Homo sapiens: one gene and its partners. The protein of the gene in region 1 purifies or fractionates together with the protein of each later gene. This does not show direct contact. Each region holds a gene or a part of one and is shown in the gene's direction. Other genes may lie near its edges.

What was found.
Region 2: the proteins of COG5 (region 1) and NIN purify together in Homo sapiens (affinity purification with mass spectrometry; 2 studies listed by BioGRID and IntAct, with this or other methods). This does not show direct contact.
Region 3: the proteins of COG5 (region 1) and CCDC136 purify together in Homo sapiens (affinity purification with mass spectrometry; 2 studies listed by BioGRID and IntAct, with this or other methods). This does not show direct contact.
Region 4: the proteins of COG5 (region 1) and ATP7A purify together in Homo sapiens (affinity purification with mass spectrometry; 2 studies listed by BioGRID and IntAct, with this or other methods). This does not show direct contact.

The regions. Positions count from the first base shown.
Region 1 is NC_000007.14:107,280,920-107,287,946, reverse strand, and holds part of COG5 (conserved oligomeric Golgi complex subunit 5), read left to right. Parts: intron 1-4,214; coding exon 4,215-4,376; intron 4,377-6,547; coding exon 6,548-6,647; intron 6,648-7,027.
Region 2 is NC_000014.9:50,821,146-50,828,172, reverse strand, and holds part of NIN (ninein), read left to right. Parts: intron 1-4,663; exon of another isoform or gene 4,664-4,991; intron 4,992-6,095; 5' UTR 6,096-6,116; coding exon 6,117-6,299; exon of another isoform or gene 6,300-6,376; intron 6,377-7,027. UniProt on the Homo sapiens protein: Centrosomal protein required in the positioning and anchorage of the microtubule minus-end in epithelial cells. May also act as a centrosome maturation factor.
Region 3 is NC_000007.14:128,801,945-128,808,971, forward strand, and holds part of CCDC136 (coiled-coil domain-containing protein 136), read left to right. Parts: intron 1-2,705; coding exon 2,706-2,817; intron 2,818-3,414; coding exon 3,415-3,580; intron 3,581-3,816; coding exon 3,817-3,957; intron 3,958-4,292; coding exon 4,293-4,451; intron 4,452-4,743; coding exon 4,744-4,914; intron 4,915-5,415; coding exon 5,416-5,601; intron 5,602-6,591; exon of another isoform or gene 6,592-6,820; intron 6,821-7,027. UniProt on the Homo sapiens protein: May play a role in acrosome formation in spermatogenesis and in fertilization.
Region 4 is NC_000023.11:77,913,686-77,920,712, forward strand, and holds part of ATP7A (copper-transporting ATPase 1), read left to right. Parts: intron 1-7,027. UniProt on the Homo sapiens protein: ATP-driven copper (Cu(+)) ion pump that plays an important role in intracellular copper ion homeostasis.

The DNA.
Region 1 (7,027 bases):
AAAGATGGAAACAACCAAATGTCTGTCAACAGACAAATGGGTAAACAAAATGTGCTATATTCATACAATGAAATATTACAATTAAAATATATACAATATTAGCCATAAAAAGAAATGAAGTACTGTACATGCTGCAACATGGATGAACCTTGAAAACATTATACTAAGTGAAAGAAGACAGTAAAACACACACATACACAGATACACACAGTATATTATCCCATTCATATGCAAATCCAGAATAGCAAAATCTATAGAAACACAAAGTAGATTAGTGATCGATTGGGCCTGGGGATGGAGTGAGGAAGGTGGAGTGTTGTAGTTAAAGATACAAGATTTCTTTTTGAGGTGATAAAATGTTCTAAAATTGACTGTGGTGATGATAGCACAGATCTCTGAATATACAAAATTCATCAAATTGTATACTTTCAGTGATTGAATTCAAGTGGTGGTATGCTATGTAAATTATATATATGAAAGTTGTCAGATTCGACATGGAGTCACTTGTGTCAAAGCCTGGCAAAATAGAGCTGGGGGACGGTTATGAAGGGAGAGCTGTCACACATGATTTGCCTGATAACAAGAACTATCACAAGAAATTTTTCTCAACTGCAGCTTACTACACAAGTCACACAGGGACAGCTAGCCACTTAAACAAGAACATTTGCCTGACACACTATCTCACAAGCCCAATCCAAACTGCAAGGGCCTAACCATAACACTAAAATTGCAAGTCCTACTTTGCAATTTACTGACACTCACCAATCAGAACTCACCAGCTCTTATATAAGATGCTGCCAGTGCCAGTAAACTGTCTTTGAAAACAACTTGCATAACCTCCTCTTCCCCCAATAAACTCCAGCCTTTCTTTTGTTTTCCAAACATACCAGAGGCCACCCTGTTCTGTCTGTAGGTCCAAGATAGCAATCCTGCTTCTCGTATGTTATTCCCCAATAAAACCTTTTTACTTAGAGATATGTCTTTATATTTTTTATGCTGACATATCTTTTTCCTTTATTTTTTTAACTGACACATAATATTTATACATATATAGAGTGATGCTGTGATACATGTATAGCGATCAGATCTGTGTAAGAAGAGAATGGGATAAGAAGAGATAGATTAAATTATTCTGGGAATTTTTTATTTTAAAAAAAGGAGTGAGGTTACCTCTTTCATTGAAATAATAAGAAAGTCACAGAGAATAGATGAAGTTGTAAGAGGGAAAAAAACAAGAGAAGTGCCACGTTGAGAAAGGTCACGGCCAGTGGTTTTCTCTTAGGGTAAAACCAAGACAAAAGTCATCTATAAAGATTGAAGAGTTGCACAAGTAGAATTTTAGGTTATTACTTTGACCTTCAGGTCTCTTGATTTTAAAGAAGTTTGTATAAATGTCCAGTAGAAATCATTTTTTCTCTGAAGTACTTGGCCAGCTTAGCAGCAGATACAGAGAACATCTCAATAACATTTTCTTAGAACTTTGAAAGGAAGGTGAATTGGAAAAATCAGGGTGCTAATGAGAGCACCTTGAAATGATGGCTATGGAAAAAGGATGACTATAGACATGGTGGGCTGATGGAGGCTGGAAGCAAGAAGGGGTCATGTAGCATAAATTACAATAAGGTCAAAGAACAAGTTCTTTAGAGTAAAATATACCACCCTTATAGATATGCAAAGCCTAACATGACGTCCATCTGTTTTCTCTGATATTATCTTGTACTACCCTCCTGTTACTTGATCTGCACCTCTGGCCAACACAGCCAGGTATGGTCTCTCCTCAGGGCCTTTGTACTTGCTGTTCTTTCCTCATGGAAAGCAATTTCCCTGAAAATCTACACAATTAGCTCCCTCTTTTCCTTCAGGGCCCCTCAGTAAGCCTTCCTTTGCCTCATCCTATCTAAAATCGGATGGAAAAGGAAAAAAGACTTAAGCATTATTCTCTATCTTCCTTGCTTTATTTTTCTCTTAGCACTTATCATTATCATATTCCATATTTAACTTATTTTAAATTTTTATTTTTGTGTATATCTCTCCTGTTACTGTGTAAGCTTTAAGAAGACAGGGAATTTTTTTTTTTTTTTCTTGACAGAGTCTTGCTGTGTCGCCCAGGCTGGAGTGCAGTGGCATGATCTTGGCTCACTGCACCCTTTCCTCCTGGGTTCAAGCAATTCTCTCTCAGTCTCCTGAGTAGCTGGGATTACAGGCACATGCCACCATGCCACCAGGTCCGGCCGGGAATTTTTTTTTTAAAGCAAGTTCTCTACTATATTTCTGCACCTAGGAAATACTTGGCAAATATTGTAGTGACTTAATATTTGTGGAAGGAAAAGTAGAGATAGAAGGTGGGGCATGTAGACAGTTTCCTTTAAGCTTGAAGATCTTAGAGGTGGAGCAGTTCAAAGTGATGACTCAAATTTGGAAGCCCCCTAGTAAAGCCAAAAAAGGTTATTATAAATGTAGACTTTTAATATAGGACATATTTTAGAAAAGATGTTTGACATTGTAGTTACCAAGGATCTTTAACGGTAGATTTGGAGAACGGGAAAGTGTTAGTTCTTATAATTCAGTGCCAAAATTTCTGCAGAAGTGGGAAGAGGCTTCTGAGGTCAGTAGATGTCATGAGTAAAAATAGTGACATTTAAATAGATGGCTCGGACTTCAACAGAGGATTGCTTCAGACACATTTAGATACTAAGTTCTTTCATGCTTCCATCATGGTCTTGGTATCTTCATCTATTACAGAAATTATTATAATTAGCATTTTACCTGCCAATTTCTTCACAAGACTGTAAAGCACTCTTAATCTCTATCTTCCCAGCACTTTACAAAGTGCCTGGTGCGTAGTATTCTCAGTAAATATGTGTTGAGTGAAATACTTACTGAATGAGAAAACATTAAGAGATAACTATGGAATTATGATGTTGGAGCCAAGAGCATTCTGATCTCTAGGTCATATCAGTGGACCAGAAGGGTGAGAAAAAGAGAAAGCCAAGTTTCATATACATGAAGGAGCAGGTTAGATGTTTTAAAGGTTAACTTTTTAGATGAAGGAAAATTTGTTGTTTATAAAAGAAAAAAGACAATGCAAAAGCTGGTGGAAGGATTGTAAACAGGGATGATGTGAGAAGACAATTAATTATAGGAGTAAGGAAACATGAAAATAATGGTTATAGACATTTGATAGTAATTGTCGAAAGAAAAATGTAAGATCAAATAGTTTGACTGCTAAATGAAAATCAGCATGAATTATTAAAGATATGGGAAGTGCAAGCAGGAAAGAAATGTTTCTCAGGTTACATTTGATGTTGTGAAGAATATTATAAAACAAAGTAGCATAGAACTCCACTTGGGAGTATTTACGTGATTTTAGGACTTCCATAAATACTTTTTATTTTGTCTCACTCTTGTTAGTAACACAAAAATGGAAAATGTAAAAACCTAAGTCTGTACACTTCCCTCTCAGTCAGTGAGCTTTACTGGGGAGGCAGCTATGGATGGAAAGGGCCAAGCTAATGGAGCAGGTCTCTGCAGGCTGGTCTTTCTTCCATATGCTTCGATAACTCTATAGGTATGATTTACAAGTAAAGGCATAGCCCCCATTAGCATTAATAGGATTTTACTGTTATTCTTTTAGTTTAAGGAAACAGATAATACAGTAGGTATTGGTGCATATTATTGTGCATTTATAGTGGGGACTTACGTAGAGATTAAAATGTTAATATAGGCCGGGCACGGTTGCTCACACGTGTAATCCCAGCACTTTGTGAGGCCGAAGCGGGTGGATCACTGGAGTCAGGAGTTTGAGACCATCCTGGCCAACATGGCAAAACCCTGTCTCTACTAAAAATACAACAATTAGCTGGGCATGGTGGCGGGCAGCTGTAATCCCAGCTACTTGGGAGGCTGAGGCAGGAGAATCGCTTGAACCCAGGAGGTAGAGGTTGCAGTGAGCCAAGATTGCGCCGTTGCACTCCAGCCAGGACAACAGAGTGAGACTACGTCTCAAAAAAAAAAAGGTTACTATGGTCCTGAATGTTTAATTATGAAATATATTGGTAAATATGTACGTTGTGAAACAAATTATTTTCTTTTTCTTAATATAGAGTTACATTTTTATGGGAGGTGCATTTTTTAAAAAGGTATTTACAGCCTGATACAATAGCATTTAGCTCTGTGCAATTTAAGTTAGTTTTTAAAAAATTTTGTTTCCACAGTCCAGAAAAGGCTTTGAAAGACTCACTACAACCCTATGAGGCTGCTTATCTATCAAAATCCTTATCTCGACTCTTCGATCCTATCAACTTGGTTTTTCCCCCGGGTGGTCGTAATCCTCCTTCCTCTGATGAACTTGATGGTATTATTAAAACTATAGCAAGGTATGTATTTTTTATATAGTGGCTTGCCATAAGATGACTGCCATATTTGTTAGTGATATATGATAGCAGTACCTTTTTAATTTATTTTCAAATTATTCAAGTAATTAGGCCCACAATTAAATTAAGAATTTTATAGTAAATGAGTGCACACATAGTAAGTACTTGAGATTCCAATTAATAAATAATTTAAATACCTTAAATATAGTCTAAAAACAGTCTATTATAATTATTCTATATCTTGCCAAGGATGCAAAGTAAACCTAGCTCTTTGTATCATAGTAAATTTCTTACGTTACACAAGAAATCAAATATAATAAACGATTTTATAAATTGAGAAACTAAAACATACAGGTTAACTTTTTTTTATCCTAAACTCCAGAACGTGCTTCATGGCAGAAATAGGAATATAACTTTGATTAGCTTGTGTTCGCTATTTTAAGCTTTTTAAGTGAATGTGACAGCTTTTAAGACTAAAAAGGGAAGATATCCTAGCAGAGGTGCCACCTGAATGCCTGCAGACAATGTAATTATATACTGTTGGCTTTAGACACTTATTTAAAAGTTATCCAGACCAATTTGCAGTTGAAATTATCTCAGTTTCTGTCATGACTAACAAGTTGTCATAATAGTAGATCTGTACATTTGAGATGGACGTTTTAAGGAATAAAAAATAGTATGAGACTGAGGTCTAAATTCTTTTAAAGATTTGAAGATGGTGATTCTGAGGCGTGGAAGAGTAAGACTAAAAAGCCACAGGTGGCCAGGCATGGTGGCTCACGCCTGTAATCCCAGCACTTTGGGAGGCGGAGGTGGGTGGATCACCTGAGGTCAGGAGTTCCAGACCATCCTGGTGAAACGCCATCTCTACTAAAAATACAAAAATTAGCTGGGCCTGGTGGTGCACGCTTGTAACCCCAGCTACTCGGGAGGCTGAGGCATCAGAATCGCTTGAATCCGGGAGGCGAAGGCTGCAGTGAGCCGACATCACGCCACTGCACTCCAGCCTGGCTGACAGAGCGAAACCCTGTCTCAAAAAATAAAAATAAAAAGCCACATGTATAATAATATACATAAGCATATCTTTTGCTGCAAACGTACCTACAAATTGTCTAGATTGCCCAGCATCTTGGTCCTAAATCTCTCCACAATTGCCTTGACTTTCCTTCTGACTATAGGTCTTAGTAACTTGATCTCTTTGACCTGTTTATGTAAATGTTAAAGAGGAATCTCTCCCATTCCTCTGTGCAACTTGACAATGCTATAATCAAATATAATCTACAACTGGAAGAATCATGCTTATGCTAGTGTTTAATAAAATTTAAAAGTGAACATTAACAAAATTATGTCTCAATACTGTATGAAAGTGCATTTTTGTTACACATAGTATGCTCTAGTATTGTTTCAAACTTTCAACTTCTTTAAAAAGAGAATCTGGTAAGATTTACTCTACTACTTTAGGGACAATAATTTTCTTGCTTTCCATCTGTATATGGGTTTCTATATTATTTTTAATTTCTAGTGTTCTTTCCATGGTCTTCGTAAAATACTTTTTTTTTTTTTTTTGGCAGTCAGATCAAATACCCCAATTAATCCAATGTTAAAGTTGAAGCATGACAAAAATATACTTTAAGAATCCGAATTTTAAAAATTTGTAATTATAGTCCTGTTATGCTTTTATATTATTTAAAAAGCTACTCTATTGAAACTAGCATGAATTGGCATAATTTCTACAGAAGCTGAGTATCTTTATATATCATGTGTAATTTATATTTTTAGCCTATGTCCCTTTAAGGTCATCATTTCCATTCAAGAGCTGTCATTTCCTTGCAGATGTCTGTGATATGCAATGCCTCTGCTTGCACTTTATCAGTATTAGCAAGAGTGCTACTTTAAAAATCTGTACACAATTTACTCCTTTAATCACAGACTGAACCCACATATGACATGCTTTTGTTAATGAGAAACTGGTCATTAAGGAAGCCATCTCCAGGTACTTTTTCCAAGTGCTGAAATTAGGGGGTAAAATGAAACAATGCAACCAGTTCTTGGAAGCAGTGAAATCTATAAAAAGAATAACCACATTGCTTATTGGGTTTGAGTTTTTATCTTGCTCTTTACTTTGTTGATGAATGATGTTGCTAATATTTAAAAACTGTTTTCATTTTCTCCAGTGAACTAAATGTTGCTGCTGTTGATACAAACCTCACATTAGCTGTGTCAAAAAATGTGGCAAAGACCATCCAGTTATACAGTGTAAAATCAGAGCAGCTTGTAAGTGGTTTCCTTTATCTGTAAACTTTAATGATTTTATTTAAAATTACTAACTATATAATACTTGACTAATCATAAATATTGAATTGACTATTTACTTACTTCCATTTTTACTGTAGTGAAAGTTTGTAACTTCCTGATGAATTTAAACCAGAAAAAAAATTTGTTAACAAAAAAATGGCCCTCCTACACATTGTCAATACACTTTCAGAAGACAAGCAAGTTTTATAAGGTTTCCTTTTTTAACGCATGTGCCAATTAATGGCCTAATTATATATTTTTAAATATTTAAATATTTTAGTAATTTACATAAATTATAATTATGCATGATCAATCAAGTTTTCCCTTTTGTGTGACCACTAACTCCATATATCATTCAT
Region 2 (7,027 bases), on another chromosome or scaffold:
AAATTAATGTGAGTCAATATGGCTTAAGAAGTGGAAGTTGTTATAAGCTTTCTCCTTTTTTTTTTTTTTTGTAACAAACATGCAGCTCTGTTTTCTGCTTCTGTAATTTACTTAGTAGTTGATTACAGGTTACTGAATGCACATTGTGCCAGGCTAATGGCGTTTTTTTGTTGTTGTGTTTTTTGTTTTTTGTTTTTTTTTTCCTGTAGCTAACCTGAGTTAACTACTTGATTGGGTAATCTACCAGTTATTAGGTTGAACAAAAGCATGGGTTTATTACATCCTTCAGGATAGTAAAATAATAAAGGTTGCTTACATTTTCGAATAAACGCTGATAGGATTCCCTTAGTTAAATATTATAGTGTAGTTGACAAAGGTTGTTATTTTTCTTTTTCTTTCTTTTTTTTTTTTTTTTTGATACGGAGTCTCTCGCTCTCTCCTGGGCTGGAGTGCAATGGCATGATCTCGGCACACTGCAACCTCTGCCTCCCAGGTTCAAGCAACACTTCTGCCTCAGCCTCCCGAGTAGCTGGGATTACAGGTGTGCGCCACCACACCTAGCTATTTTTTTTTTTTTTTTTGTATTTTTAGTAGAGACAGGGTTTCAACGTGTTAGCCAGGATGGCCCCGATCTCCTGACCTTGTGATCCACCTGCCTCAGCCTCCCAAAGTGCTATGATTACAGGCATGAGCCCCCGCTCCCAGCCATTTTTTCAAATGTATTTAATGTGACTTTCTTCCTGTGCATTTAAGCTTTCGTGTTATATTTTTGTATCATGATTTCATTCACAGTGATATTGTTGTGCTTTTGGTATCCAGCTAGAAGTGAGACACTGAGCAGAGAGGAGGCATTCTGACAGTAATCAGTTTGCTGCTAAGCAGCACTGGTTTTTGGCGGAAGTATTCTCCTATATAAACTCGTAAATGGCTGCAACTGCTTTTTCTATTGAGCTTTTACTAAACTTGAATTTATCCTTGTCACTCTTTCCTTTTATACTGAAAGTAGTCCAATATGGTGAGCCTGAAAATCTGTGCAGCCAATTAAAGTATTTGCAGAAAAGAAAGAAGAAAAAGAGCACTTTAATTTGATCATTGGCGTTATTAGGCTCCGACTTGCCAAATGGTGAAAGCTAAAGGCATAAATGGAGAGCTTTGCCCAAGTGGGGTTTGTCGGTGTTCATCACGTCAGCTGTAGAGTAAGTAAATGAGTCACTGGTGGTCACTGCCTAGTCTGTGGACCCCCAACAGCTATGTCTGCACACAGGTCCAAAAGCATCTATTATGATGCCCTCTCAAGGAAAGCAGCTGAGCCGAGAGGGGCATGCAGACATTCCGCAGAGCTCTTCAGCTGCTGAACCATCTGGATGCGAAATAAAAGGCCTGGGCTAGGGGCTCTAGCATTGTGCATATTTATTACTTGGTTTTCACTTGCCAGACTTTGTCCCCTTTTCACTCGCCAGACTTTGTCCCTTTTTCACTCCCTCTGGCCCAGAACAGACGTCCCCTTTAGCTGGGGTGTCATTGTTACAAGCTCCTTTCTGTACCTTGGTTGAACACTGAAAAGTTCATAAATCCACATGTCCACTCATGATTCTAGCCACACCTCCACCTATTTAGTTTGCAGTCCTATTTGGCACTGTGATTTCATCAGCTGGGGTAATGAACACCACTGTCAGAGTCGGCAGCATTTTGGCAGCCTTATTTTGAGTTATTTGGAAGGAAAATGCTCAGAATAATTGTCATTATGGGTGGTTATTGAGTGGTAAATGTTTTGATTAATGGTTCTGTGCATCTGCTTCTTATTTAACCATCCCCAGTTAGAACTCCAAAATATTGCCCATACTGGTTCTTTCATTCCGAAAGAGTCATAAAGCCTTCTGACAATTTGACTGGAAAGGTAGATGGTGAGGAGAGGCCCAGGTTTATTATGGCAGGCTTCGTAACACTGGAGCTCTTCTTTGCAATTTGAAGTAGAATTTCTCGCTCAAAATGTAACTTTCTTAATCTCTGAGTAAGACTCCTGCCTCTGGTGGGTACCAGTTAGGATCTGACCCTGAAAAGCACTGGATTGCACAGATTATACATACTTAAGTGTTTATTCAGGGGAAGTCATTTACGAATTACCAATTCCTGGGCAATGCCCATTATTGAAGACATGGGACACTTCATGATCATTTTTATATAAGAATTTCTTTCTTTCATGCCCTAAATCCCAAAGCTGCTTTAGAAAAAAAAGGGAATGTGTATTCTATCTGTATATCCCTGGTGCCTTGTAGGCTATAATTATTCAATAAATGGATCAAGGGAGGTAGGAAGGAAGGAACTCTGCTTCTCAATTCCAATTTGGAAAAGTTTGTGGCCATGGAGTGTTGTGTGGGGATTTCTACTGCTTAGTACTGTTCAACTGGCTAACACATAAAGGTGGAGATAAGTGGTTTGCCAATGGCATCATTTCAGAGGTCTCATTCATGTGTTCTGTGTGCATGTGTAGGATTGAGGGATAATATAATTCAGTGTCACACTAGAGTGCAAATCTTGGCTCCACCCCCATTTTGTTCAAGGAGATTAATGCTGTCTCCTTGGACAGTGGCTTAATTTTGCCAAGCCCCAATTTCTACATCTTGCGTGGGAAAATGAGAAGATCCACTTCTAAGATTTGGGAGGATTAAATGAGATGATATACATAAAGTACTTAGTTTAGGCCAGACTCATAGTAAATGTTCAGAAGTAATTCCCAGTTACAGTGCAGCTTTCTGCTTTTATTTGACATTAAATTTATCAATAACCTGCTTTTAAAGATAGAGGAAGCTCTGAACATTACCTGCTGCCATTATCATTTAGTTATATAATGATGTTTATATACATAGTACACTCCCTGCCCATTCTCAGTCTGTTCTATAGCATTTCACATCTCCTGCTTTGCTTCTTTGGAGGTAGATCTGTAGATAATTCACTTGTTACCTCCTCTTCAGTTTACCACTCCTTTGTAGCTGCAGGTATTCTTTTGGTTATCTTAAATTCCCTCTTGTATCAGCTTTCTCTGGAATTAGCCACTCTCGCTTGCTTGCCACATTTAACTCTCAGAACAAACCTTCCAGATGGATATTGTTATTCTCATGCTGTAATCGAGGGGACTTGAGAAAGGTTTTAGTATAGATTCTCCTCCAAAGTTTCATCCCATAGCAAGACAATGCAGTCGAAGTTTGTGAATCCATTTACTTAATTACTAGCCTATTGAATTAAACTTCAGACAGCGCTGCATGTTACAGATTGGCAGTTGGTGTTGGCTTTCTACTTCTTGCTTAGGAGGCTGAAAATGCCTTTGAGAAAGGGTGGGATGGGGGAAGTGGAGGTGTGTAGGTGGATGAGATGGGCATTCCAAAATTTTCATATGCCCATTTCTGTAGACCTCATTTAGGGTACGTTTCCTCTCAAGGAGTGATCCATACAGGAAGTCAATCCATGATATTTACCAAATCCCTGGCTTGAAGAACAGACTGACTGTAGTATGCATTTGGGGGAAGATATAAAAGAAATAGGAGCGTGGATCTTACCATTAAAGAACTTTCTGCCAAGTGGGGAGAAAAAAATTCTTGCACATGAAATTACTGATGAACATTTGGGAAATAATATCAACCAGTAAAAATGCCTTCTGTGCCAGATGAGCACTGACAACTTGTCACCATGCGTAACATCTCCTGGATGTTTCAGCGTGAGCATTTGTTCCACAGGGGTGGTGCTTGTCTCCCCTTCAGTCAAGCACAGTGTTTTGAGAAGGAAGGAGATGAAATAAAGAGATAAAGAAAAGAAAGCTGCCATAAAATGAAAGAGGTTTGATTTAGTGAAAATCCAATGACCTCCCAAAGAGTGGGGCATGATAGTATATCAAATTCGACACCGTGGATAAGATCAGGGCTTCTCAGTACATCAGTGTTTTATTCCTCTCTTTCATTGGTTTAAGATGGACAAATCCCCGCCCCTTAAAAATAATTTTTAAAAAGGGAAGTGTTAGAATTCTTTCGCTTTTGAGTTTTTAAACATATATGCAAAATCAAGCAAAAGAAGAGTCTTGCTTTTATGAGGTCGGTCAGATAACAGCCCAGGGGACTGTAAAACTCAGAGTGAGACTAAGAGCTACCGCAACACTGAAAATCCTGGAGCACCTTGGGGATTCTCAGCAGATCTTAGTTGACAATTAACTGGTGGACTCTAAGTGAATCTTGTTAGCGAAGTGTTGGCCTTGTCTAAATTCTTAACTCCTGTGGCTTTGCATAACAACTTGGTGTTTCTTTTCTGAGGCTTTGATGTTTATATAACACTCTCAACTTATTTTGAAAACATTTACATAGTGATTAGTTAACCCAACAGACCAATCCTGGGAAGACAGCCAGAGCCTGCAGCACCTTAGTAACAGAAAAACTGATAATTAGGAGAAGAGACCTGTCCAAGACCAGGAACCTGGACCAAAATTGTGCCATGTTGCTTTACTTTAATGAGTGGCCCCAGTAAAAACTGAGCTGTATGGCAGAGCTGTTCACATTTATCTTCTGTGTCCACCCAGTTCTGCTGAAACCCCTGGCAAGATCGTGGCCCTGTTGTAGCTTGTCATGTTTTGAACAGCTGTCTATGGAAAGAAAGCAAACACAACCTAGAGCAACATTGATTTGTTTTAGAAAGCTCTTTTATTTTCAGTTCTGGCTGTGTTCAACATCTTAGCTTACGTTTTTCATGTTGTAATGATCTGCCGTATGGACGATCACCTCTAAGTTAGAGAGTTCTGTAATTTGGCTTGGATTAAAGATGCTTGGTTAGTGAAAGCTGCTGCTTTTTTTATAGTCAAAGGACTGGTTCTGAGAGCCTTGTTGCAGATGGCTGAGGTCACCGTCCCAAGGGTGTATGTCGTGTTTGGCATCCATTGCATCATGGCGAAGGCATCTTCAGATGTGCAGGTTTCAGGCTTTCATCGGAAAATCCAGCACGTTAAAAATGAACTGTCATGCAAGGAAAAAAAAAAAACCACAGATTTCATTAGTAAAATACGAGCTACCTGGAATTTTATGATGTATATTTTTAACAAAAATGACTCAGTTATTGACGTCTCCAAGTTTTTACTGATCCTAAGGACAGTGGCAAAATGGAAAGCCTGGAGTATGGGTAGGTGAGAGAGACGGAACACAGGTTAACCAGGCATAAAGAGATGAGATGCTTTAGTGAGTGGAGGTTCCCTGAGATGCTGTATGATTCATATAAACCAGTCAGTGGCTCCTTTAAACCTCACTGTCTGAAAGGTTGAAATAGTGTCTTCCCCTTTCTCTAGGCAACTAAGCATTACCTAAAACTCGCTGGGACTAAAGCAAGCTTCTGGGAATATTCTTCCCGTCACACCTCATGTAATTGCACCAGTGAAGTTAATTGAGTTGCTTTTTGAGGAACTCGTGTAAAAGGCATTTAGTTTCATGTAAAACAGGGAGGTGGTTTTGTAGCAGACGTCGTGTTCATTTAGTGCCTCTTGCTGCAGCCCTCCAGTCTAGCTATGATGGGGGCCATCTAAGCTGAATGAAGTAGAACGAATCAGCTTGGCCACGCTGACCGATTGCACCATCGGGGCAGGTTGTCTAAAGCTTGCCAGCTAGCATGGAAGCTCTGACCATGCAGTCTGCTGGCGCTAACAATTAGTTCACTTGAATAGTCTTGCTGTCAAAGTGGCTTTTCACCTTCTTAAAATCCTGGGCTAGAAGAGCTGGGAGAGAACCACCTTCAGCCTTGAGTTTGGCAGTCTGGCTGTCCGCCTGAGAACCAGGCAAGAGAGGAGGGTGTCTTCTACTGTACGTGACCCTCTCATTCTGGTAATTTTGCTCCCAGTGTGATCTGAGCTTATGTATATGCCCCTGATGTGAGTGCATGCAGGAGTGTCACTGGCCAGGGCTGGTCCTACAGAGACTGGGGGTCTTGCTGTGGGGTGCATCAGAAACTGGGTGTTCCCGAGCATTCCCTAGAGACTGGTGGGGTACAGAGAACGGGAATGTGCCAGGTGGTGACCACGGTAGGACTGGAGAGGCTGCCACAACCTGTCCTTGTCTCTGTCTTACACACAGGTGAGCACTGTGGGCTATGGGATGGATGAGGTGGAGCAGGACCAGCATGAGGCCCGACTCAAGGAGCTGTTTGACAGTTTTGACACGACGGGCACAGGGTCCCTGGGGCAGGAGGAACTCACCGACCTTTGCCACATGTTGAGCTTGGAGGAGGTGGCCCCAGTGCTGCAGCAGACATTACTTCAGGACAACCTCTTGGGCAGGGTAAGGTCTGGGGAAGAACGTGGCTATGGGAAGTGGGGTGCGGTTTCTGCCGGGGTGCTGGGGGTGGGGCGGACCACACATGTTGCAACTTGTTTCTAGCATCCTGGCTGTTACATGATAAAAAGAAGAATGTAATGGGTGTGACATCACAGTCCAGTTTGCTAGGGTGACAAGAGCCTGCTTTAATTTGTGCTCTGGAATTATGGTGTACAGTGAGCATCTTAGATAAAGAGGCAATGAAAGGATGTTTTCCAACTTTTTTCTTGTTCTTTGTGGTTTATTTTATTGACTCCACATTCATCACTGGGACAGAAAGGAGGAGGGTGAGATTTCCATTGAAGAGAAAGAAAATGCAGTAAGAAAGCTATTGTTATGACTTTTACTCCCAGTGAAGCTATTTCTTGTGTGGATTATTTCTGGGTGAAGTATTAATTAAACTTTCTACCCAGGAAATAAGACAGCAGGGTAAATAAATACAGTGCAGGTTCATTTAAAACCCAGCACGGCTTGCTTCCAGCAGGGATGTGTGTGTGCACGCCAATGTTAACCTCTGTGTTTGATGACAAATAGTCATGTTATTACCATAGATCAAGTCACAGATGTGAGTAAGAAGTGAGAGAGGGTCTTTTTTTCCTCTTGCCAATGGTGGATATTTGATCTGCCATGACCTGAGATTGCCTTCAATTCTCCTCATTATAATTAATAGCTTTTATTATTTGCCTTATTTA
Region 3 (7,027 bases), about 22 Mb from region 1:
GAAAATTTCCAGCTCTAGGATGGGCAAAGAGGGACCTGTCACCTTGGGAAACTCTTCCTGCTGCCCTGGCATCATGGTGCTTTGCCTGGAATGCTTTATAGGGGGCCTCTGGCCCTGCTTCCAGGTGCAGGGATGCTAATTCTTAGGTTCCATTAGCTCTCCTCAAAATAGAAGCTTTGGGGGGCAACAAATCGGAACAAAAGACAGCTAGAGAAGAAAAGTTATTCTGAGTGATACATGAGGTACCCAAAAGCCTAGAGCCCTGCTTTCAGACAGTGAGTCTCCCAGCTAGTTGCTAGGATTCATGACATCAGAGAGTTTGCCTTTATTCTGAGGCTAGATTTATAATCTGAGTATAATGGAGGTCCTATATTTGGCCAGGTCAAGCAGAGGCAATCAACAAGGAATCAAAGAACTGCAAGTTTTTCCAGCTGTATCAAGCCTCTCAGAAGAGCCTTTAGATTAAATGGTGCTGGGAGAAGAAGGTTGGCACAGTGGGAAGGCTTGGGCTGGAGTCAAACAGACCTGAGTTCAGTATCTCAGCTCCACTAATTAGCAGGATGAACGTAGGAGGTCTGGTTATGGTCTTTCTCTGAGCCTGTTTCTATATCCAGGATATGAAATCAAAATTGGTTAATAAAACCTTATAGCTAGATGGGATCCTGAAACAGGAAAAGGACCTTAGGGAAAATGTAGAGAAATCCAAGTAAACTATGGAGTTTAGTTAATAGTAATGTATCAATATTTGATTCCTTAGTCATGACAGGTATATCATGGTAATGTAAGATGTTGACAATTAGGGAAATTGGGTGAGAACCCTCCCAGGAAACTCCGTACTACCTTTGCAACTTTTTTGTAAATCTAAAACTATTCTAAAATTCAAAGTTTATTTAAAGAAGAAAAAAACCTTACAGAGCTATTTTGGGAATTAAATGAAATGTGAAGCATGTTGAAATCACTTGCACACTTACCAAATCTGAGGCTGAAACTATCAAGTCTAATGCTTAGCGCATGGTTAGTTTTCATTAAAGATTAGTTTCCTTCCTCCCTTATATGGTAATCTGCAGTATTCTAAGGAATTCTGATTAGAATTAAGAGGAAACATTAGAAGTTACTTTTAGGGTGTTGAATCTTCCAGCAGGTAAGATAGGTCTTGTGTTCTAATTAGAGCAAGTTAGTGTTCTTTAAATATCAGTAGAATTAATGTTCTAAGAGACATAATTCTTTTTCAATTTTTTGCTAGTGGACACAGAGTCTTGCTCTGTTACCCAGGCTGGTCTCGAACTCCTGGGCTCTAATGATCCTTCTACCTTGGCCTTCCAAAATGTTGGGATCACAGGTGTAAACCACTGCACCCGGCCAACATAATTCTTAGTCATGAAGCAACAAAACAGATACAGGTGTTTGTATCATCACAGCCTTAAAAGTGGGCATGGTGACTCATGCCTGTACTCCCACCACTTTGGGAGGCCGAGGCAGGTGGATCACTTGAGCCCAGGAATTTGAAACCAGCCTGGGCAATGTGGCGGAACCCCATCTTTACAAAAAAATTCAAAAATTAGCCAGGCTTGGTGGTGTGTGCCTGTAGTCACAGGTACTTGGGAGGCCGAGGTGGGAGGATCACCTGAGTCCAGGGAGGTCAAGGATGCAGTGAGCCATGACTGTGCCACTGCACTCTGGTCTGGATGGCAGAGTAAGACTATCTCAAAACAAAACAAAACCAAAAAGGAAAAAGTATAGGTATAGGTGACTGGTGCTTAGAGACATGTGCTGGAGTATTTCAACCGGATCTCTTCTAATGCTTGAGGATGATATGTGAGTCTGGTTAGGATGGGCCTGTCAGCAGATAAAAGGCCATTAGAAAGAATTCCTTTTTTTTTTTTTTTTTGAGACAGAGTCTCACTCTGTCACCCAGGCTGGAGTGCAGTGGCACAGTCTTGGCTCACTGTAACCTCTGCCTCCAGGGTTTAAGCAATTCTCCTACTTCAACCTCCTGAGTAGCTGGGACTACAGGCATGCACCGCCACGCCTGGTTACTTTTTGTATTTTTAGTAGAGACAGGGGTTTTGCCATATTGGCCAGGCTGGTCTCAAACTCCTGACCTCAAGTGATCTGCCCACCTCGGCCTCCCAAAGTGTTGGGATTACAGGCTTGAGCCACTACACCTGGCAAGAATTCTTTACCACATCCAGACCAATGTATTTGGTGTGGGAATAAAGAACATAAAAGGAAACTCAGAATGCCTGAAAGGCAGGTACTGGCAGTCACATCTGACAGTTCACATCTCTCAGCTTTTTGTACTAAAAGCATAATTGGAAGGTAATCATAAACAGTTGAATGGAAATTTTACATACAGTAAACTTTTGAAAGTTTTTACATACAGTAAAAATTTGAAAGTTAATTAAACTTTCAAAAATTGCTAAAAGTTCAAGAGTCTGCTTCGGTTGAGGCTTTGAAGATGAGCACACAGGGTAAATCTTCAGGGCAGATGAGAAGAAGGACAGCTATTGGGAAGAGGAGAAAGACTCACTGCACTGTGGAATTTCCTGGGCCCTGTCTTCTAAGCCTCTACCTTTTTTCTGTCTTTAGAAAAAGAGAAGCTCTTTAACCTTCTGCTCTCAGGTTTCAAGACAGGAAAACTGGGGGCTGGTCATCAGTGCTTTCCTTTCCTCCCGGTCTCATCTCTCTCTGCCTGTCCTCTGCAGAAGAACTGCAGGAGCTGCGGGAACGCTACCATTTCCTGAATGAGGAATACCGGGCCCTGCAGGAGAGCAACAGCAGCCTCACGGGGCAGCTTGCAGATCTGGAGAGTGAGAGGTACAGCTGTCTCTGGAGAGTGAGAGGTCATGGGGTTCCACAGGACTCTGCCTTACCTTGGGCTTTCCCTGAAGGCAGATGCCAGGGCAGTGAGCGTTCCTTTGCTCCTGGAGACCCAGTCCTTTCCATGGTTTCCAAAGGATACAGATACCACCTACAAGCAGACATGGGGATCCGACCCAATTATCTCAAGACTAGAGGGAGTGAGTTCTGAAGTTTACTTCTGCTCTAGGCACTGGGTTCTGGTTTGCTCTGCCCTAAAGTGGATCAGAAGAGATTCTTTTATTGTCTGCATAGACTTGTTTCAGTCTAATGGCAGGCACAATGCTTCCAGATTGGAGTGGGCTTGACTAGGCCTAGCCTCAAAACTAACTGGACTGGCACTCTAAGGGTCTCCCAGAGCCAAACACACCTTTGCAGATTGAGGGGCTGGAGACTTTCTGTAGTCTTTTAAGCATGTTTATCTGAGCGGTGAGTCACAATAGAAGGCCCCTTACTATCTTTGGCCTAAAATGAAGGTATCAGGACAAAGCCTGCATGGCTGGTGATGCCAGGCAGAACTCCCTTCAAGCATAGCTCTGCGGTTCTGAATTGCAGGACACAGAGAGCAACAGAGAGATGGCTGCAGTCCCAAACACTGAGTATGACGTCAGCAGAGTCTCAGACTTCAGAAATGGATTTCTTAGAGCCTGATCCTGAAATGCAGTTGTTACGGCAGCAGCTACGGGATGCTGAAGAGCAGATGCATGGCATGAAGAACAAGGTAGGGCACAGAGGGTGGGGAAGGCAGGCACATTTCTTGTCTTTCTTTCACCTTCTCCCAGCCTGTGGTAGAAACATCTCCATAGGCATCCACTGTGGAGGGAGATAGTACTCTGGGGTCTCACTTGCCTGATGTAAATCTTCCAGTCAAAGAGCGCCATGCTTTCCCCAAGCTTGTTCTTGGAGCATATGTGGTATCTGTAGTAAACAAGCCTCCCTGTTCCATTTCCCACATAGTGTCAGGAATTGTGTTGTGAGTTGGAAGAGCTACAGCATCATCGCCAGGTCAGTGAGGAGGAGCAGAGGCGGCTGCAGAGGGAGCTCAAGTGTGCTCAGAATGAGGTGCTTCGGTTTCAGACCTCCCACAGTGTCACCCAGGTAAACACTGCCCGGGGAGGCATCTGGGGTGGGGGCAGAAGGGCCTCATGGAGGGGCTGCTTCAACCGGGGTGGGCACAGTGAGTATGGCTGTGCTCTGCTGACTCTTGCCCTGCAACTGGGCACAGTCTGCTGGAAACCAACTGTAGAAGTCATATAGCACTGCATTCTAGAAATGGTGGTCATTACTGAGTGTCCATCTCACAGAAGAAACCAAACCCTAGACCTGTGGGAGCTCCTCAAGATGTCTGCATCTGAAAAGGAACCCAACTGATCCGTAGAAAGACCTGCTGTTTCTTGAGAGTAACTGTTCTACTCACATCCTCCCTACCACAGAATGAGGAGCTGAAGTCCAGACTCTGTACCCTGCAGAAAAAATATGATACTAGCCAGGATGAGCAGAACGAGCTCTTGAAGATGCAGCTGCAACTTCAGACTGAGCTCCGGCAGCTCAAAGTCATGAAATCCACACTTGTAGAAAACCAGAGTGAGAAGGTAACAGCAACCAGAGGTGAGGGGACAACTTAGGTGCTAAGGGCATCCTTCTGAGGTTTTGGGGAAGGTGGATAAGAGTAGTGAGTTAAAAATAATTCCAGCAACCACATAGGCAGCACCACAGGTAAAGAACTCCAGCCCTGCTCGAGTACTACATTAGATATGAGGACATTAGGAAGTGAAGGGCAGGAAGAAGCAAATCTTAGACTGTTGGTGTCTTCAAGTGACTCACACAGAAGAGTGAGTGGGTTAAGGAGCCCAAAGGCACTGCCCAAAGCCCCCTCTACCATAGGAGTTACTGTGCCGGCTGCAGAAGCTGCACCTCCAGCACCAGAACGTCACATGTGAGAAGGAAAAGCTGCTGGAACGGCAGCAGCAGCTGCAGGAGGAGCTGCAGTGCCATGAGGCAGAGCTGCAGCACCTCAGGGATACGGTGGCCTCCTTCAAAGAGAGCAATGAGAAGGTAAAAGAAGCTCCTGGTGAGGGAGGATGTAGCCAGGCATCATCTTGTGTGAGGGTGAGAGCACAGAGGACGAGAGGGAATGGTAGGAGTGTGGAGGAGCTGGCAGTGAGGGGGCCAAAGAGGTGCTTAGGAGAAAGGTGACCTCGGGGAGTCACAAGGCTCTCAGCTTCCTTTGATTTTAAATCAGAAAAGCAGCATATAAAAAGGAAGTCCCTTTGCCTCCCCACCTCCCAAAAAAGGAAGCCCCAGAAGGTCTGTGTTTCTTTTTAAATTATTTTTATATTTATTTATTTATTTATTTAACTGGAAAGGCTGCACTGGGAAGGTCTGTGTTTCAAGCCTGTCAGGGACGGGTCCATCTTGGGTATCTATCCCTGGCTGGGATGAAATTGGGGCTGAGAAGGACAAGGGAAGATGGGTCCCCTTAGTCCCCGCCTGGGAGGAGAGAGTCCAGCAGCAGGAGTGCCTGGGATGATGGCCAGGCCTGCCTCCCCTGCCCAGGACACAGAGACGCACGCTCAGCTTCAGGAGATGAAGCAGCTGTACCAGGCCAGCAAGGACGAGCTGGAGCGGCAGAAGCACATGTATGACCAGCTGGAGCAGGACCTCCTGCTCTGCCAGCTGGAGCTGAAAGAGCTCAAGGCCTCCCACCCCATTCCGGAGGACAAAGGAAAGTGTGCTAATAAGGTAATTGTCGTTCAGAGAGGTGACAGCTCCTGGGCACTTGCTCCAGAGAGAAGAGGTACAGAGGCAAAAAGTGAAGGCACCCAACCCAAGGGCTTGATGGCCTTCCTAGGCAGGAAGCAGAGGCAGGGCCACATGCTGCTAACTTCAAAATTGTTTGCCCTGACCTTGACTTTGAGCCAGAGCCACAGCTTAGTAGGATCAATACCTTTGGATCCCAGTCTGAACCCCTGAAAGTTTTACACATGATTCCATGTATGTAGACATTTATACAATGGTATTAGAACTGTAGTGATATCTAGTCATTCTTGGAGGGGAACATATACATGGGCCCATTACACAAATATTATTGTTGGAACTAGAGAAAGGGGCCAGTTTTCTGGGTCAGATTGCAAATGGTCTTATAAAGGGGTACGGTCTTGTGCCCAGAGTGCTGATTGGGCAAGAGAAGGACCTAGGCTCTTCTAGGATTTATTCTGTGACTTTGAAGTAGTTAAATTCTTTTTTTATGAAATGGAGTCTCACTCTGTCGCCCAGGCTGGAGTGTGCAGTGACACGATCTCAGCTCACTGCAGCCTCCGCCTCCTGGGTTCAAGCAATTCTCCTATCTCAGCCTCCCAAGTAGCTGGGACTACAGGCACATGCCATTGTGCCTGGCTAATTTTTGTATTTTTAGTTGAGACCGGGTTTCGCCATGTTGGTCAGGCTGGTCTCGAACTCCTGACCTCAGGTGATCCACCTGCCTCGGCCTCCCAAGGTGCTGGGATTACAGGCATGAGCCGCCATGCCCTGCCAGTAATTAAATTGTGGAAGGTTGAATTGTGCCCTCTTTAAATGGAAGAGAATACTACTCTTAACTCACTTCCTTTTAGCAGTAAATCCTGGTAGTGATAAATAAGGCCTTATTCATTTTTTTTCTTTTCCATAGTGTATAAAATGCAAGCCGTTATCATTTATCCTGTTGAGCACTTTCAGCTCCTGATTACTGATGGGAAATGGAAAGGTGTTGAAGCATGTTGGAGAAGAGGCCCAAGAGTCTCTAACGATGGTGGAGTTGGTCACATTCTGCCAGAAAACTCAGTAGTTCCTGTCCCTGGGGAAAGGCCTTCAGGAGACGGAGGACTGGGAAGGTTATTTGGGCCACCTCAGCAGTCTCTTTGCCTTTCTATATCCAGGCTCACGTTTCCTCCTTTTTCCACTGCTACTCAATTTAGGAGCCCAGGTGATCTGTGACTTGCTCGTCACCTCTTCCCCTAATGGGAAAAATGATGGGAAAGGAGAAGCATGCTGGCAGACAGCACCTGCTTTTTCTCTAGCCGTAAAACAGCATTGAGATCTGTCTGATATTAGAAGATCTGGGTTTTTGGAAATGGGATGATTTAGTCTTCTCAACCCAAATTTACCAATAGCGCATACTTTCTAAAGATTT
Region 4 (7,027 bases), on another chromosome or scaffold:
TTCCTAATCTTTTTGTGCCCAAATGTATGAGATATTGGTAGACTACATCAGTTTTCACAGATACCTCTTTCCTTGAAGGAAATGAGGGTAAAATACCCCATTTTGAGTCAGTTATGTGTACTTTGTACCATATTTTCTGTTCACATTTAAAATTATACAGCTATGTCTCAAGGATGAAAAAAGAGTTTTACTTATTTTTACTATTAATCTCTAGTGTAGAAGTCCAGTTTTTCAGACCTATAATCAGGAGTGCATTTTTAACAATTTACCAGTTGAAATAAATGGGTTATTTCACATTGTAGGGATATTGTTTTAGACTGGCCATTAACCTTATTTTATTTTATTTTTATTTTAAAAGATGTTATTGTTATTATTTATCTATGTATTTATTTCTAGAGGCAGGGCCTCGCTCTGTGGCCCAGGCTAGGGTGCCATGGCACAATCATAGCTCACTGCAGCCTTAATCTCCTGGGCTCAAATGATCCTCTGGCCTCTCAAGTAGCTGGAACCACAGGCGCATGCCACCATGCCTAGCTACTTATTTATTAATTAATTATTATTTTTTAAATAATATTATTTTTAAGAGATGGGGTCTTGCTCTGTCACCCAGGCTGGAGTGCAGTGGCGCCATCATAACTCACTGCAGTCTCGATCTCCCAGGCTCAAGCGATCCTCCTACCTCAGCCTCCTGAGTAGCTGGGACTATAGGTGTGTGCCACCACTCCCAGCTAATTTTTAAACTTTTTGTAGAGACAGCATCGTGCTGTGCAGTGGTGCTATCTCGGCTCACTGCAACCTCCGCCTCCTGGGTTCTAGTGATTCTCTTGCTTCAGTCTCCCAAGTAGCGGGGATTACAGGTGCGCGCCACCACACTTGGTTAGTTTTTGTATTTTTGGTAGAGAAGGGGTTTTGCCATGTTGGTCAGGCTGGTATCGAACTCCTGACTGACCTCAAGTGATCCACCCTCCTCAGCCTCCCAAAGTGCTGGGATTACAGGCATGAGCCACTGTGCCAGGCCTTAAAACACCTAGTGTTAAAAATGGTGTCTTAATTGTATTCTCAGATTCTCCTAGAAAGAAAAGATATACTAAATGTATATTTAGATATACTAAAACACCTAATGTTTATTTTTGTTTATTTATTTTTGAGATGGAGTCTGGCTCTGTCACCTAGGCTGGAGTGAAATGGTCTATGTTTGTTTTTTCATCTTGACAGTAATATCTTTGAACATTTTCTGGAGTATTAGATATTATTCTCTTGATGCTTCAAGGTATCTTAACTTCACCATTGTATTGCGATATATTGTTTTGGAGAGACAGTATAATATAGGATTAAGAGTGGAGGCTAGGTGGGGCACAGTTGCTCACGCCTGTAATCCCAGCACTTTGGGAGGCCGTGGCAGGCGGATTGCTTGAGCCCAGGCGTTCGAGACCAGCCTGGGCAACATAGGGAAACCCTGTCTCTACAAAAAATACAAAAATTAGCTGAGTGTGTTGGCACGTGCCTGTAGTCCCAGCTACTCAGGAGGCTGAGGTGGAAGGATCGCTTGAGCCTGGAAGGTTGAGGCTGCAGTGAGCTGAGATCACACCACTGCACTCCACCCTGGATGAGAGAGTGACAGAGTGAGACCCTGTCTTGTCCGGAAAAAAAAAAAAAGCCTGTCTTGTCTGGCTCAGTCCAGGTGCTAGACTGTCTAGGTGGGATCCCAGCCCCTCTGCTTACTACTTGTATGACCCTGCGCAGATTTCATACTCCTCTGTGCCTCAGTTCCTTCAAATTTCTAAAATGGGGACAATAACAGTACCTGTCTCACAGGATTGTTAATGATCTAATACATGTACGGTGTCTGGCAGATAGTAAACATACAATAAAATGTAGTTACCTTTAATATTTTAATATATTATTTACTGTAAAAGTAATTTTAACATCCTATATAATAAAATTATAAATTACAGTTTTGCTGTACTATAAATTTAGTAGACTACAGGATCAATATACTAATCAATCAATACTTGCAAGCAATATTTAAATTCTTTAAAAAAATTTTTTTTGGAGACAGGGTCTTGCTCCGTAGCCCAGGCTGGAGTTGCAATGGCACGATCTCGGCTCACTGCAACCTCTGCCTCCAGGGTTCAAGCGATTCTCATGCCTCAGCCCCCCGAGTAGATGGGGTTACAGGCGTGTGCCACCACACCCGGCTAATTTATTTATTTTTAGTAGAGATGGGGTTTCGCCATGTTGGCCAGCCTGGTCTCAAACTCCTGGCCTCAGGTGATCTGTCCGCTTCAGCCTCCCAAAGTGCTGGGATTACAGGTTTGAGCTACCGCTCCCGGCCCTGCCACCACGCCCGGCACAATACTTAATTTCTAACTTACACCATAGAAAATTGGCCGGTGCGGTGGCTCACGCCTGTAATCTCAGCACTTTGGGAGGCTGAGGTGGGTAGATTGCTTGAATTCAGGAGTTCCAGACCAGCCTGGGCAACAAGGTGAAACCCCATCTCTACAAAAATTACAAAAAATAGCCAGGTGTGGTGGCATGCGCCTATAGTCCCAGCTACTGGGGAGGCTAAAGTGGGGGAATTGCTTGAGCCTGGGAGGTTGAGGCTGCAATGAGCTGAGATCATGCCACTGCAGTCCAGCCTGGGTGACAGAGTGAGACCCTGTCTCAAAAAAAAAAAAAAAAAGAAAAAAAAAGAGAAAGAAAATGGAAAACTCAGATTGAGAGGGTCCCCCAGTAGCCTATAGTACACCTACATATGCTAACATGGCATCTTAAAGCTCATTATTACAGCTGGCAAATCAAATCACTGTGATGTGCTCATCCTATTTCCCTATCAAGAAAACTCATAACAATCTGCTTCTGTAATTAGTGAGCCACAGACTCTAGGCCATCGAGATTTTCCACATTCCCTAATTGTCAAATGCTGAACCATACTTGTACTGAATAAGTTGTGATACAGTGTAAGCAAGGGAAAAGGCCTTATGTATGTCTAACCTACTCTGCAAATAGCTGCATTCTTACAAAGTTGTGTGTAAATTGAATTTTTACAAAGCATGTCAGCACTTTGATTAGTACATTTTTATTGTGTGCTTATTGCATATTCAGTGTTTCCTGTGAGCTATACAAAGAAGCATAAGGCATATGTTCCAATGTCTAGCAAGAGAAAGAAGTTTAATACCAAGCAGAGAGAAATTAGGTACTACTAAACTATGAAACTGATTCCAGGGTATTCGGAATTTAAAAAGAAAGTGGCTAGGAGTATTTGACATGATTTTTCATGAAGGAGGTGGGACTTCAGTTCATTTACTTACTCAACAGTGATTTATTGAGTAGCCACCATGTTCACTGGTGGTATGATAGTGAACAGAGCAGATATGGTCCTGTTTCTGTGGAGTTTACAGACTAGTGAAGTAATAGAACTTAAATATGTGCAAGAAAACATTCTAGGTGAGGGGACCAGTTCTAAACAAAGTCATAGAAATAAATGATAAGAGCATGGACTATATGGCAATCAGTGAAGGGACTTGCTTGATTGTAGTAGAGATTTTATGTTGGGGAGGAGCACTGCAAGTGATAGATGCAGACCATCTTTTGAATGCTTTGAAGAACTATTTAAGTCTGTCTAAAAGTCCTTTGGATACACTGTTCTGGAGAGGGTTTGGGGCTTTGGGGTCATACTGCCTTGGTTTGATCTCATCTCTACTCTAATTTGTTTAAGTTTAGAATTTTATAGTAAGTTTTCTCAGTGACACAACTCTATAGGCAACAAACTGATATTTACAGAGTGGTTGGGGTCAGTAACCCTTGTATCAGTTAAGCAATGTACACATGAAGTGCCAGTAGGAAGTCCAAGGAAAGGTTGGGAGAAATAAAAGGAGGTTAGTAAAGGAAAGAGAAATAAATACATTCTGTGATAGTTGGTAGAATGTCATCAGAAATGTCTTCAAGCAAAACAATACATTTGCCTGTCTTTTGTTTCTAGTTGCGTTTAATGGTAGTGTGTTTTCCTTGTCTAAATATGAGAAAGAGAAACTAAACTGCAGCTACTTGACGTGGGCATCTGAGAGCTACCAATGGTTGGCTTAGGTTATGTTCTACATTTGAAGCATCTGGTCAGTTTTAGATTGTCTTCTATATTTGAAGCATCTGGCTAGACCACTTGTGTCCCAGTTTTCTATTTTACCTAAACTCAACTTGGTCAGAAGCTTATGTAGTAAGTATTGTTTGTAACCTGTGTTAGTACTCTCTTAACATGGCTTAAAGCATGAATGGATTGTCAAATGAATACCTGTTATGACCTGTATTTTTTCTTGTTACCTTTGGATTTAATGTAAGTATAATAATGCTCTAAGAACATTTGACAGTATTGTTCAGGCACTTTTTTTTTTTTTTTTTTGAGACAGGGTCTGGCTTTATTGCCTAGGCTGGAGTGCAGTGGCACGATCACAGCTCACTGCAGCCTCAACCTCCTGGGCTCAAGCAATCCTCCTACTTCAGCATTCCAAGTAGATAGGACCACAGGCATGTGCCACCATGCCTGGCTAATTTTTAAAATTTTTTTTTTGTAGAGACGGGATCTTACTTTGTTGCCCAGGCTGGTCTTGAACTCCTGGGTTCAAGTGATTCTCCTGCCTCAGCCTCCCCAAAGTGCTAGGAGTACACAGGCATGAGCCATCATGCATAGCTGCTTATTCAGGTGCTTTTAAGAAATTTTTTCCACCAGAAAAGTAGAAATGATCATACCAGACTACCTTTGTCTCCTCCCAATCTTTTATTATGGTGATGTCCAACCTTGTTATAAGGAGGAGCTTCTTTTAATCTCAGAGTCATGAGATCAGGGCAGATACTGACAGTATAGTTCCTGAGAAGTAGTTGCTGGCTGTGCTGTTCTTCCTTTCCCAATGGGAATCTTAGCTGAGACATGTAGCAGAGAGAAGACATTATGGGGAGCCAGCATGGAGCTTTATAGGAGGTGAGGTGTCTAGATCTACCAGTAGATCCCGATTTGCAGGTTTGAGACTCCTACCTTATTTCATCCATGGCTGTTGCATTGTACAAATCTAGTGGGCAGCAGCCACAGTCTGTAAAAATTATGACATGGAATTACACAATGTGGCAGCCCTGGAAACTACCCAAACCACTTCTATTTCTAGTCCTGTATTCCCTTCAATACCTACTACATCCAGCAGCCGTGATAGTCCCAACACGTTTATCATTTGACTCTCTTTGCCTCCCACTTGAAGGCTCCCCTTTAATCCAACAGATAAAAATTACATCTTTGTCTAAGGATTTCAAGGTGTTGCATAAATTTTCTTATTCTATTTAAGTATACTCATCAAGAAAATGATAATAACTGCCTCGTCTAATTCATAGGTTTTTATCAGTATCAAGTGGAATAATGTATGCAAAAACTTCATAAATTAAAGAATACTACACAAATATAATATTCTTTTCAGATATATTATGTTGTGGAAAGAATACTGAATTCCAATCAGATGTCTGGCATCTCAGTTCTTTCTGCTATTAACAAACTGTGACTTTGGACAAATTACTTTGTGCTCTGGGGACTTTGTTTCCTTACCTATAAGAGGAAACTTATAATGCCACTCCTATCTACCCAGACACCTAAGAGCTACTTTTTCCTCACCTCCACATTCAGTCACCAAATTTGTTGTCTAGTTCTTAAAATTTCTTAAGTTGGTCCTGCCCTCTCTATCTCCATTCAGTTCCTAATCACTTCCCTTTTGGGCAGCAGCCTGTTAAAAAAAATTGTGGTAAAATATGCATAATATAATATTGACTATTTTAACCTTTTTTTTTGAGACGAAGTCTCACTCTGTCACCCAGGATGCAGTGCAATGGTGTGATCTCTGCTCACTGCAGCCTCCGCCTCCCAGGCTCAAGCAATTCTCCTGCCTCAGCCCCCTGAGTAGCTAAGATTACAGGCACACGCCACCCCTGGCTAATTTTTGTATTTTTAGTGGAGACGGGGTTTCACCATGTTGGCCAGGCTGGTGTCAAGCTCCTGACCTCAAATGATCCACCCGCCTTGGCCTCCCAAAGTGCTGGGATTACAGGCGTGAGCCACTGTGTCCGGCCCCATTTTAACCATTTTTAAAGGTACAAGTCAGTGGCATTGAGTGCATTCTCAGTGTTGTACAATCATCACTGTTATGCATTTCCAGATTTTTTTCATCATCCCAAACTGAAACTCTGTACCCATTAAATAATAGCTTCTCATTCTGCCTTCTCTCACCCCCTGGTAACCTCATTCTACTTTCTGTCTCTATGAATTTACCTATTCTAGGTACTTTTTGAAAAATAATTTCAACATTTATTTTTGATTCAGAGGGTACATTTGCAGGTTTGTTACCTGGCTATATTGCATGATGCTGAGGTTGGGGTACAATTGATCCTGGCAATCAGGTACAGAGCAGAGTGCACAATAGTTTTTCAACCCTTGCCCCACTCCCTCCCCACCCAGTAGTCCGCAGTATCTATTGTTGCCATCTTTATGTCTATGAGTACCCATTTTTTTTTTTTTTGAGACGGAATCTCGCTCTGTCGCCCAGGCTGGAGTGCAGTGGTGTGATCTCGGCTCACTGCAAGCTCTGCCTCTCGGGTTCATGCCATTCTCCTGTCTCAGCCTCCCGAGTAGCTGGGACTACAGGTGCCCGCCACCACGCCTGGCTAATTTTTTTTGTATTTTTAGTAGAGACTGGGTTTCAACATGTTAGCCAGGATGGTCTTGATCTCCTGACCTCGTGATCCGCCCACCTCGGCCTCCCAAAGTGCTGGGATTACAGGCGTGAGCCACCGCGCCCGGCTGAGTACCCATTGTTTAGCTACCACTTATAAGTGAGAACGTGTGGTATTTGGTTTTCTGGTCTGCGTTAGTTTGCTTAGGATAATGGCCTCCAGCTGATTCCATGTTGCTGCAAAGGACATGATTTTGGTCTTTTTTTAATGGCTGCATAGTATTCCATGGTGTATATGTACCACATTTTCTTTATCCAATCCACCA